Linked DNA regions of Homo sapiens: regions 2 and 3 are each linked to region 1. Evidence: fine-mapped expression QTL. A gene starts in region 1. Each other region holds a variant in brackets. All regions are shown on one strand. Distances are between the middles of the regions.

Evidence for each region. PIP is the estimated chance that this variant, and not a neighbour inherited with it, causes the effect.
Region 2: its variant is fine-mapped to the expression of COX19 in whole blood (INTERVAL, PIP 0.99).
Region 3: its variant is fine-mapped to the expression of COX19 in whole blood (TOPMed, PIP above 0.99).

The regions. Positions count from the first base shown.
Region 1 is chr7:973,461-977,570 of GRCh38, forward strand. It overlaps COX19 (cytochrome c oxidase assembly factor COX19), which reads right to left and starts at 2,089. Exons shown (of 3, transcript NM_001031617.3): 1 at 1,968-2,089. The coding sequence starts at 2,049. RefSeq lists enhancers at 1,312-2,194, 1,494-1,563, 2,195-3,075 and silencers at 1,804-1,963, 1,984-2,263.
Region 2 is chr7:1,043,544-1,047,671 of GRCh38, forward strand. All of the region lies in intron 2 of CHLSN (cholesin), which reads right to left. GPR146 (G protein-coupled receptor 146) reads left to right here and starts at 1,003. Exons shown (of 2, transcript NM_001303473.2): 1 at 1,003-1,115. RefSeq lists an enhancer at 122-677 and silencers at 783-1,272, 1,453-1,502. The variant A/AT (reference allele first, on the strand shown) is at 2,541.
Region 3 is chr7:942,268-946,395 of GRCh38, forward strand. The region is part of intron 1 of ADAP1 (ArfGAP with dual PH domains 1); the gene reads right to left. Among named protein-coding and RNA genes, the nearest start is that of ADAP1, 10 kb to the right of the region's middle. RefSeq lists enhancers at 2,634-3,548, 2,958-4,128, 3,386-3,680. The variant T/C (reference allele first, on the strand shown) is at 1,875.

The sequences.
Region 1 (4,110 bases):
GAGTTTGAGACCAGCCTGGGCAACACAGTGAGACCCCCATCTCTACCAAAAAAAACCTTAAAAGTTAGCTAGGTGTGGCGCACGTCTGTGGTTCCAGCTACTCAGGAGGCTGAGGCAGGAAGATCGCTTGAGCAAAGGATTTCGAGGCTGCAGTGAGCTTGATCACACCACTGCACTCCAGCCTGGGCAACAGATCAAGACCTTGTCTCCTAAAAATAATCCAGGCTGGGCACGGTGGCTCACGCCTGTAATCCTAGCACTTTGGGAGGCAGAGGTGGGCGGATCACCTGAGGTCAGGAGTTCAAGACCAGCTCGGCCAACTTGGTGAAACCCCATCTCTATTAAAAATACAAAAATTAGCCGGGCATGGTGGCGGGTGTCTGTAGTCCCAGCTACTCGGGAGGCTGAGGCAGGAGAATTGCTTGAACCCAGGAAGCGGAGGTTGCAGCGAGTCGAGATCACACCACTGCACTCCAGCCTGGGTGACAGAGTGAGACTCCATTTCAAAAATAAATAAATAAATGATCCAGCCTGGTCAACATGGGGAAACTCCATCTTTAAAATAAAAAATAAAAAAACAATAATAATTAGCTGGGTGTGGTGTTGCACACCTATAGTCCCAGCTACTCTAGAGGCTGAGACAGGAGAATCGCTTGAACCCGGGAGGAGGAGGTTGCAGTGAGTCGAGATCACACCACTGCACTCCAGCCTGGGCGACACAGTGAGAGTCCATTTCAAAAATAAATAAATAAATAATCCAGCCTGGGCAACATGGGGAAACCCCATCTCTAAAAAAAAAAAAAAAAAAAAAATTAGCTGGGTGTGGCGCTGCACACCTATAGTCCCAGCTACTCTAGAGGATGAGACGGGAGACTCCCCTGAGTCCAGAAAGGAAGGAGGCCGAGGCTTCAGTGAGCTATGATTGCACCACTGCACTCCAGCCTAAGCAACAGAGTGAGACCGTGTCTCAAAACAAAAACAATCAAACCCAAACTTGTTTCCTTCATAAACATGCTGAAAACAACAATGGAAAAAACCCACAACGAGGTAAAGTCAGCCCAGTACGAGGTTAAGGTGCAATGTAGGTGATGGTCACAGGAGAGTTCAGGGTAAAAATTCTTTCATTTTTGCTATTTGAAAATGTCACAATAAAATGTTGGGAAAGAAACAGTAATTCACAGATCGTTTTTCTTTTCTTTTCTTTCTTTTTTTTTTTGAGACGTTGTCTCACTCTGTCGCCCAAGCTGCAGTGCAGTGGCCCGATCTCGGCTCACTGCAACCTCCGTCTCCCGGTTCAAGCGATTCTCCTGCCTCAGCCTCCCGAGTAGCTGGGACTACAGGCGAGCCACATCACACCCAACTAATTTTTGTATTTTTAGTAGAGACGGGGTTTCCCCATGTTGGGCAGGCTGGTCTCGAACTCCTGATCTTAAATGATCCGCCCACCTCGGCCTCCCAAAGGGCTGGGATCACAGGCATGAGCCACCGCGCCCGGCCCACAGATCCTTTTTCGAAGCCTTCATGTCCACGGAGGCAACCCCACCGGAATACGGCCAGAAGCACTGGGAGATCAGCAGCACTTTTGAGCTTTGCAGCAGACATCGCTAGGCACCGTCTAAGCCTCGGCTGCAGCTGCGGGCTTCGTGGCCGCCGAATGCCCCGCTCTGCAAACCCGGGGCACAGACAGCCCGCCGGGTGAGTCAGGGCGGAGCCGGAGACCCGGAAGCCTGACGCAAGGAGTCGGTGTCGCTGCCCTCGTCACGGGGGCCACGGTCCTGCCAGCTCCCACCTGCAGGGTCCATGCCGCAGCAGTGACCCAGGGCTGGGTGGGGCGGAGGGGCGGGCCGCCGTGCCTCAGTTTCCCCGCCTGCACCGCGCTAGATGCCGGCACCCCATAGGGCTCCGCGCTGGGCCGCGACCCAGACCCCCCATCGCAGACCCCTGCCCGCCGACCTTCCGCCGCTCACCTAAGTGATCCAGCGGGAAGCTGCCCTTGTCCGGGGGCCGCGGCTGGAAGCTCTTGGTCCCGAAATTCATGGCGGTCGACATGTTGGCGACTCCGGAGTCTGCGAGCGCCTTGCGAGCGTACGCAGGGCGGCCGGCGGAGCGCCGAGCAGGCACCCCGGGAGCGCCGAGCACGTCGAGCAGGCCCCGTCCCCGCCCCTTGCCCAGGCCCGGCCCCACCCCTTGCCCAGGCCCGGCCCCACCCCCTCGGAGTCAGCAAGCTCCTGAGCCCCGGTGGGCGCTGCCCGGGCTTTCCCGTCCCCTGGGACCCTCACAGCAGTCGGTAGCAGAATCAGCTTTTGGAATTGGTGAGAAACCGAGGCCCAGAAAGGTTCAGCGAATTGCCCGAGGACACATAGCGGTGCCGGCGTCTCTGCATCCCAGGTGTCTGCTGGGGCCTCGGTTTCCCCATCGCACAGAGACCTCATCACGGGGCCCATCCGGGGAGGAAGGCGGCACAGGAGGGACAGGAGAGCCTGTGGACTCGCTGCCTGCGGCTGCTGGAGCCAGGTGACACCACCGAGCAGCTTCAACAACAGGAATGTGCTCTCAGTCCTGGGGTCTGGAGTCCAAGCAGTGGGCAGAGTGGGGGCCCTGGGGACAGTCCCAGCCTCCCAGCTTCTGGGGGCCGCCAGCCTGTGAGGTTCCTTGGCTTGCAGAAGCACCACCTGGTCTCGGCCCCTACGTTCCCATGGTGTCCTGCGCATGTCCAAATTTACTATTTTTATTTATTTATTTGAGACAGGGTATTGCTCTGTTGCCCAGACTAGAGTGCAGTGGCATGATCACGACTCACTGCAGCCTCGACCTCCTGGGCTCAGCGATCCTCTCACCCCAGCCTCCTGAGTAGCTGCGACCACAGGCACACACCACCACACCAGGCTAATTTTTCTATTTTTCGTAGAGATGGAGTCTCCCTATGTTGCCCAGGCTGGTCCTTAACTCCTGGGCTCAGGCAATCCTCCTGCCTCAGCCTCCCTAAATGCCGGGATTATAGGCATGAGCCACCATGCCCAACCTAAATTTCCTCTTTTTATAAGGATAGCAGTCATGTTGGGTTAGGGGCCGTCCCAATAACTTCATCTTAACTAATTATATCAGCAGCAACCCTATTTCTTTGTTTTGTTTTTTAAAACGGAGTCTCTCTCTTGTTGCCCAGGCTGGAGTACAGTGGCTCGATCCTGGCTCATTGCAACCTCCACCTCCCAGGTTAAAGCAATTCTCCTGCCTCAGCCTCCCGAGTAGCTGGGATTACAGGCGCCACCAACACACCCAGCTAAGCTAATATATTTTTTTTCAACACAGAGTCTCACTTTGTAACCTAGACGGGCGTGCAGTGGTACGATCTCGGCTCACCGCAACCTCCACTTCCCGAGTTCAAGAGATTCTCCTGCCTCAGCCTCCAGAGTAGCTGGGATTACAGGCATGCGCCACCACACCCGGCTAATTTTTTGTACTTTTCGTAGAGACGGGGTTTCACCATGTTGCCCAGGCTGGTCTCGAACTCCTGACCTTAAGTGATCCGCCCACTTCAGCCTCCCAAAGGGCTGGGATGACAGGCGTGAGCCGCCGCACCTGGCACCTATTTCCAAAGCAAAGGTCACATCCTAAGGTCCTAGTGGCTTCACCATACGAATGGGGGTGGAGGGTAGTTACAGCTCAACCTAGGGCAGAATGAAAGTGTACTGTAAGCGGTAAGGCCCGGCCTTTGCGTGTCGATGTTGTCATGGCAACAGCAGTCGTGGGAAAGGGCTCAGTGAAGACCCCAGCGTCCACCCGCGGAGTCTCTCCCAGCCCTGAACCTGTACCCACATGCCCTGGCCATGAGGAAGTCGAACACTGGCCCGTTTAGAGCACCATGGGCGGCCCAAGCTCCAGCCTCCACTCACTCATCCATCCCACCCATTTCACAATCACTGGCCAGGCCTTCGTGGTAAGCACAGTGGGTCCCCAGCAACACCGAGTTCGCTGCCTGGCCCCCCGCTCTGGACCCTGGTGACACCTGAACCCACTGTTGCTTAGGAGCCAGTTCCTGCAACTTCCCAGGGGTTGTTTGCAGACAAGGGCTTGGTCAAGGCGGCCCAACAGCCCCCACCCCGGGGCCTG
Region 2 (4,128 bases), 70 kb after region 1:
GTACCCGGCACCTCTGGGCACACAGGGCCCGGGCTGCATCCACTGTGCCAGGGACCTGGTGCCGGGCTGGGCAGCAAGTCAGTATCACATCAGCAGGCGTGGGCCGTGGTGAGCCTCTCCCTGCCCTCCCGCTGGAATAGAAAGCTGATCCCGACGTCCCACTCCGACCCACGGTCAGGAAGCCGTCCTGTCCAGGAAGGTGGCTGAGGTACATCCCTGAACACAGTAGGCCACAGCATCATGCAGCGGAGGGCCAGTGGCCGCTATTCTTCCTGCTGGTGTTCCACTCGGCCCGCAGCTCACAGCAAGTCTATGCGGAACTGTGCAACCCACATGCTTTGATTTTCAGAAATGTTCTTAGATCCTGAACCAGAATGTGCTGCAGGGGGGACTGTTTCACCTCAAAAATTACAGCAAAGTAAATGTCCTTGTTTCAACTTTTCCAATGTTTAACTTGTAACAATAGCTACAAAAGTAATCAGGCAGCAATGTGTTTCTTTAAACGGCTTTCCTGTGAGTGTTCCGTTTACAAAGAAAATCCTAAAACCAGGAAGTAATTGGTGACTTTGGAAACAGCAAGCAAACTTCGGTGAAGAAAGAGGGGCAGGTGTACCTGGAAGGACTAACTTGCAGCCACTCATTTCCTTTGGAGGGCGGTGGGGCCTGCACCCTGCAGATTAGGGTATATTCTGACTCAGCAAAATAGGCACCAGCGCCTGTAAAAAGAAACCGCGCTGGGCACTAAGAGAATTCTCAAAAACTCCCAGAGCCCTGGGTGTGTGTCCTCCCACAGGGAATCTCGCACGAGTTCGTCAAATGGCTGGTCTCAGGTTACACAACCAGCACTGCCTCCACCGCCACCGCCCCCCAACCTCACTGGTCCGAGCGGTTCCCCGCGGTCTAGCCGCGAGGGCGGGGCCGGGGGGCGGAGGCCAGGGCGGGACCAAGGCTGGGGGCGGGGCCAGGCATGGCTGCCGCTCGCCGGCCGGGGGCGGGGCCGACGGTCACGTGTGTACACAGGGCCCGGGCGGCGTGCGCGCCGTGAGCCCCGCCGCCTCCGCCAGCCCGAGCTGCCCGCCCGGCGGCGACTGCGCCGGCCGCCGCCCAGCAAGCCGGTGAGTGGGGCCCGGGAGCCTGGGTCGGGTCGGTGGGGCACACCCCAGTCTCCGCCTGGGGAGGGAGCCAGCCCCAAGCTGCTGTGGCTCCCACGGCGGGCGCTGCGCTTACTGGGACCCGGGTCCTCTGGCCGCTGCCCACTGCGGGGCTCCGTGCCCTTGCCAGGAGGGGACCGCTGTCCTCCGGCCGCGCTCCGAGCTGAGCCCCGGGGGCGGGCTTTCGGTCATTAACCTGGTGATGGCAGCTGAATCTGCTGCTGGCGTAGGCGGCACAGCGCCGCCACCGGCTCTCCCATGTCCGACAGGGCACCACTGATCCTGCTCTCCTGGGCCACTATGGTGACTGCTTTCGGCCCCTTCTGTGATTAGTATTTTAAAGTGAGTTTTGGATCTGTGTCTACATGGAGGTGTCGGATCTGCTGTCAGTTGTCTTGGACAGTTGGCAGGGCATGGGACGGCTCTTTCAAAGCTTCACTGGAAGGCAGTGCTCTCCAGCCGCCAAACCACCACTACCAGCAGCAGAAAACCCACTATTAAGTTAGTATTACAAACCTGGCAAGTCAGTTCTCTAAATTAGGCATAAGTCTATGAATCTTGATGTGACTGGTCACAGTGGCTTATCTCTGCATGCATGCTACGTGGTGGACCAGAGGATAATTCTGTATTCGTCGTCCACAGCCTTTGATCTCTTCCCTGCCCATGAAGATGTACTTGAGTCCTCCATTCCACTTTAAATAGCCAGCTCCTGTCCACACGGAACAGCACGACATCTTTTATCTTTTGCTACCTGCAGCACCTAGCAGAGGCCAGCATTCAATAACAGAGGGCCAAGAGGCTTGCTTTAAAGGCCTCTGCAAACTTGTATGAGTAAAATGGTTCTGACCATGTTCCCAGGCTCCTCACGCATAGTGGTGATGAGATAGTCTACCGTCCTAACTGGGGCACCGTTGAGAGTGAACGGAGGCACTGTTAATAATTAGACGAAGTGCACACTCACAGTACCCATGACCTGCTGTGCAGCTCCTTCAAGAACTACTGTAAGGCCTGGCTCCCCAACCAGAACCCCTGTTGTCTTCCTCAATGAAGAAGGCCTCTGAAGACAAGTGACTTAAGAACATAGTTTATATGTATTGAATACTGTTGTGCCTTTTCACAGAGAAGAGGTCGGGGCCAGAGCAGCTCACTGCCCGACGCCACACACATCCGTGCTGGCGTCCACGTGTCATCCTGCCTCTCTAGCCAGCATGGACATATCCTGAGGATGGAGGACAGAGGAACACAGATTTAGGGCAGAATGTAAATGTGAAAGTTGACTTGGAGTCCCTGCAACTCATAAGCCCCAGTAGGCTGATGAAGAGAGAAGGGCAAAGGGCGCGCACCTCATGTGGGTCTTAGGTTAGGATGTAAAGGCTGATTATGTCTATC[A/AT]TACAATGAATCAATGGCATACTGCACAGATCGCTGCATGGGGAAATATGCTCGTGTAATTTACAGTCGGAAGAGGGACATGCTGCTCACTGGGGCAGGGAGAAGAAGGGGCTCCTCAGGGAGCTGCAGCTCTCACAGCCCCTAGGATGTCACCTGGAATCCTGAAAAAATAACTGCCGCCTGGCCTTTAATGACCCAACCACAGCGAGGTCTTGCCTTTGCAGAAGGAAATTATCACCCAGAGAACCCGGCCGACCGTGTCATGCACACGACGATCCCACGGTGCTGTTTTCTGTCAACAGTGTTTCCCAGCCATTCCCTCCTGCCTGCCAGCTCCTCTGCTCTCCAGGGCTTTCACTAACCCACCTGCCCAACTGACCAGCATTAGGCTGTCCAGTTAGCCCACATCTGTCCAGGGGTCTCAAAGGCTCAGGACCCCAAGACACCATCCAGGTAGCCAAGAGGACAGGGAACCCAGTCTGGAGAGTAGAATAACGTTTCGCTCCAATTTGAGATCCCAAAATGAGATGCTGCCCGGGACCAGAAGTCAGTTTCTTAGGAGCGTGCTGTCTACCCAGGAGCCTCCGTGTGCAAACAAAATACCCCCTTGAGCAGCAGAGGGACAAGGTGGAGGTGGGGCAGGTGTCTGTTCATCCCCACAGAGCCACACCCAGGTCCCTTCCTGCAAAGGCCAAGGACTTTCCCCATTTTAATTGGAACCAAAGCAAGCCTTGCAGACCACTGTCGCTACCACAGCTAGTGTGATGAGGAGAAATAACCTGCTGGCTCCTCCCTGGGAAACAACCAAGGTGGTGATAAGATCTGCGGCTCAGAGCACTTCCCTGCAGGTTAAGGCCACGCCTAGTAAACCGGGGCTCGACTGAGGAGCCCCGGCAGGTGCCAAGCCTGCCCAGAGTCTGCAGTAGAGACTCTCTGTTCTTGGCCATGTCTTTGAATTTCTGAGGAAGTCTTTTTTGTTTGTTTTTGTTTTTCCCTGGTCTGATGTACCTGGAGAGGGAATTAGCCTCACACCCAGTTAGGGAACAAAAAGCCAAGTAAACAAAAGAATGCTGTTCCACCTTCCTCCAGGGAACTGGCGCCCATAGCTGCAGGCACAGGTGCCCAGCCCGCTCACTGGCCCAGCAAGGTGCTTGGTCTCAGGCCCCCAGAGCCCGTCCTGGAGCCGCAAACATGCTCGCTATTATCCATGGAAAAAGAGAGGCATTCTCTTTGTTTATAGTCTAAGCCAAGTCACCTGATTCACTCTCACTACTCTGCAGTTTGGAATTGTAAAAAGCAAAAGGCTACAAAAATCAAAACCATCCACCTATGTAATGAACCATTTCTTATCACAGCCCAGGAAGGCACAGATAGGAATCAGTGTGCGTAAGCTCTCCACGTGGAAACCCTGTGAAAACAGCAGCCTTTCCTAAGCATCTGGCTCCTAGGAGCTGGATGTTAATTGTTGCTAAAGCCTGGGTTCATTACTACAAAAGAAAATAAACATTCCAGAGTCATTTTGAAAGCATTTTGATTGTTCTAGAATATTCACCCAAGGTTGAGCGTCTCATGGTGCATGGCAGGTTCG
Region 3 (4,128 bases), 31 kb before region 1:
CCACTGAGAGAGAGAGGAGGAGGAAGAGAGAGGAGGAGGAGGAAGAGAGGAGGAGGAAGGGAGAGAGGAGGAGGAAGGGAGAGAGGAAGAGGAAGAGAGAGGAGGAGGAGGAAGGGAGAGAGGAGGAGGAAGGGAGAGAGGAGGAGGAAGGGAGAGAGGAGGAGGAAGGGAGAGAGGAGGAGGAAGGGAGAGAGGAGGAGGAAGGGAGGAGGAGGAAGAGGAGGAAGGGAGAGAGGATGAGGAAGGGAGAGAGGAGGAGGAAGGGAGTGAGGAGGAGGAAGAGAGAGTAGGAGGAAGAGAGGAGGAGGAAGGGAGAGAGGAGGAGGAAGGGAGAGAGGAGGAGGAAGGGAGAGAGGAGGAGGAAGGGAGGAGGAGGAAGAGGAGGAAGGGAGAGAGGATGAGGAAGGGAGAGAGGAGGAGGAAGGGAGGAGGAGGAAGGGAGAGAGGAGGACGAAGGGAGAGAGGAGGAGGAAGGGAGAGAGGAGGAGGAAGGGAGGAGGAGGAAGAGGAGGAAGGGAGAGAGGATGAGGAAGGGAGAGAGGAGGAGGAAGGGAGGAGGAGGAAGGGAGAGAGGAGGACGAAGGGAGAGAGGAGGAGGAAGGGAGGAGGAGGAAGAGGAGGAAGGGAGAGAGGATGAGGAAGGGAGAGAGGAGGAGGAAGGGAGTGAGGAGGAGGAAGAGAGAGGAGGAGGAAGGGAGTGAGGAGGAGGAAGAGAGAGTAGGAGGAAGAGAGGAGGAGGAAGGGAGAGAGGAGGAGGAAGGGAGGAGGAGGAAGGGAGAGACGAGGAGGAAGGGAGGAGGAGGAAGAGGAGGAAGGGAGAGAGGATGAGGAAGGGAGAGAGGAGGAGGAAGGGAGTGAGGAGGAGGAAGAGAGAGTAGGAGGAAGAGAGGAGGAGGAAGGGAGAGAGGATGAGGAAGGGAGAGAGGAGGAGGAAGGGAGTGAGGAGGAGGAAGAGAGAGGAGGAGGAAGGGAGAGAGGAGGAGGAAGGGAGAGGAGGAGGAAGGGAGAGAGGAGGAGGAAGGGAGAGAGGAGGACGAAGGGAGAGAGGAGGAGGAAGGGAGAGAGGAGGAGGAAGGGAGGAGGAGGAAGAGGAGGAAGGGAGAGAGGATGAGGAAGGGAGAGAGGAGGAGGAAGGGAGTGAGGAGGAAGGGAATGAGGAGGAGGAAGAGAGGAGGAGGAAGGGAGCGAGGAGGAAGGGAGAGAGGAGGAAGGGAGAGAGGAGGAAGGGAGAGAGGAGGAAGGGAGAGAGGAGGACGAAGGGAGAGAGGAGGAGGAAGGGAGGAGGAGGAAGGGAGAGAGGAGGAAGGGAGAGAGGATGAGGAAGGGAGAGAGGAGGAGGAAGGGAGAGAGGAGGAGGAAGGGAGAGAGGAGGAGGAAGGGAGTGAGGAGGAAGGGAATGAGGAGGAGGAAGAGAGGAGGAGGAAGGGAGCGAGGAGGAAGGGAGAGAGGAGGAAGGGAGAGAGGAGGAAGGGAGAGAGGAGGAAGGGAGAGAGGAGGACGAAGGGAGAGAGGAGGAGGAAGGGAGGAGGAGGAAGGGAGAGAGGAGGACGAAGGGAGAGAGGAGGAGGAAGGGAGGAGGAGGAAGGGAGAGAGGAGGAGGAAGAGAGAGAAGAGGAGAAAGAGAGAAATTGACCTCATCAGAATTATTACTATTATTATTATTATTGAGACAGGGTCTTGCTCTGTTGCCCAGGCTTGAGTGCAGTGAGGCAATCATGGCTCACTGCAGCCTCGACCTCCTGGATTCAAGTGATCCTCCCGCCTCAGCCTCCTGAGTAGCTGGGACTACAGGTGCGCACCACCATACCCAGCTACTTTAAAAAACTTTTTGTAGAAACAAGGTATTGCTATATTGCCCAGGCTGGTCTCTAACT[T/C]CTGGGCTCAAGCAGTCCTTCCACCTCAGCCTCCCAAAGTGCTGGGATTACAGGCATGAGCCACTTCGCCTAACCAAGTCCCTGTTTTATTTATTTTTCTTTATATTTTTAACCTTTTTTTTTTTTTTTTTGAGACAGAGTCTCACTCTATCACCCAGGCTGGAGTGCAGTGGTGCAATCTTGGCTCACTGCAACCTTTGCCTCTCGGGTTCAAGCAATTCTCCTGTCTCAGCCTCCCAAGTAGCTGGGATTACAGGCGCCCGCCACCATGCCTGGCTAATTTTTGTATTTTTAATAGAGACGGGGTTCACCATGTTGGCCAGGCTGGTCTCAAACTCCTGACCTCAGGTGATCCGCCCACCTCGGCCTCCCAGAGTTCTGGGATTATAGGCCTGAGCCACCGAGCCCGGCCTATTTTTAACAATTTTTAATCTTTAATTTTTGTGGGTACATAAGAGGTGTATATATTTATGGGGTCCACAAGACATTTTGCTACAGGCATGCAATGTGAAATAATCACATCACGGCAAACACGGCACCCATCACCTCAAGCGTGTATCATTTCTTTGTGTTACAAACAATCCAATTACACTCTTTTAGTCATTTTTAAAAGTACAATAAATTATTGTTGACAATCGTCACCCTGTTGTGATATCAAATACTAGATCTTATTCTATTCTTTGTACCCATTAACCATCCCCACTCTACCCACCCTGAGACTCTGTTTTAAAGAAAGATTCAGACCCTGGGAGGGAAGAGCCCGGGGGGGTGACTCTGGGTGACTCTGGGCGATGTCTTAAGGCCTCTGGTCTCTGGGAGAGTGACCTCGGAAGCCCTTGAAGGCACTGAAATAGAAGGTGGCCTTCTGATTTGAGTATGCTGAAGCTCTGCAGGGTGGGCTCACGTGTGTGTGTGCAGGTGTGTGTGTGTGCAAGGAGATGGGGAGCTAGAGTCCCCCAGCTTCCAGTAAGGAAAAAGCCTGGCTGGTCCCCAAGGCAGAAGGGACGGGCTGACCCTTCTGTTTTCCAAGTGACTGAGGCTGGGCTGGGCAGGCCTCCTTCTCAGGCTGCTGGGCATGGCCAGGCCTGCCTGCATCCGCAAATGCCCGCAGCCCATCGGAGCGAAAAGGGGCGGGGCACGCACTCTCAGAGACCCTCCAGGGTGGAAGGGGAGCTGGTCTGACGCCCCAGCAGCAGGGCCCCCACAGGCCCACGCAGGAGAGCCTCTCCCTAAGCCTGGGCTGCACTCCAGCTGCCCCCTCCACTCGGGGCACTGAACCGTGGGGCCGGCCCTGCTTCTGCCCAGGACCACTTCTGGGTTCCCAGGACTGTGGAATTTTGTTCCAAAATGCCTGGAGTCAGCACCCACGGCCTGTGGTGCCCCCAGAACAGGCCACAAGGCCAGCAGGTACACACTGGGCCCAAGGGTGGCTGCGGCATGGCTGATGTGGTGGTGGAGATGGAGGCCCTGAGTGCCAGGTAGGGAGGGGCAGGCCCAAGACTCCAGCCCCCACAAACATCCAGGCTGCCAGCACCGTCTCCAGGAGCTGCCTCCTCCTCGGAGACTGCCCACAGCCGCCAGCCTCTTTCCCTCCCTCCTCCCAGCCCCGCTCTGCCCTACCTGCTCCCAGGACGCCCGAGGTGACTCAGCCGCTCACCATTTCCGGAGCTGGTCTGGGGCACCTGGGCAGGTGAGCCACATTCTTGGGCGGAGCCAGGTGGGGCAGGCGTGTCCCCCAAGCCAAGGCCCAGGCTGGGGCACGGGCAGGGGGAAGGGCAGTAGCCAAGCCTGTCCATGGGGCCCTGGTTCCAGAGACCTTTGCCCTCCCAAGGCTGACGCACAGCAGAGATCCCGGTGCAATCGAGGCCGGGTCGGACGCTGGCTCTGGCCAGGCACGCAAGGGGCAGCCGAGGTGGGAGGGTGCCCTTGTGGGAGGGGCTCCGGTGCCCACCACCCTTCACAGCTACGTGAGGCGGGGCATGCATGGCTGTCCCCCAGGCACACAGCGCCCCACTCCACGCCGGGACCCAGGCCCCTCTCCAACTCCACCTCCGTGTTTTCCGCATATTGTCTCCCAGTTACCCGTGGCCCCTGCAGGGATCCAGGCTCCCGCCGGCCGGTGGATCCCCGCCAGCGAGGCAGTGACCTCTGGAGCTCCTGGGTGGGCTGGCAGCCCACACCTCCTCTCTGCCCAGGCCCCAGGCCCCCACCCCCTCACGCTCACGGGCGGCCCTGGTCCCATTCCATTGTGAGG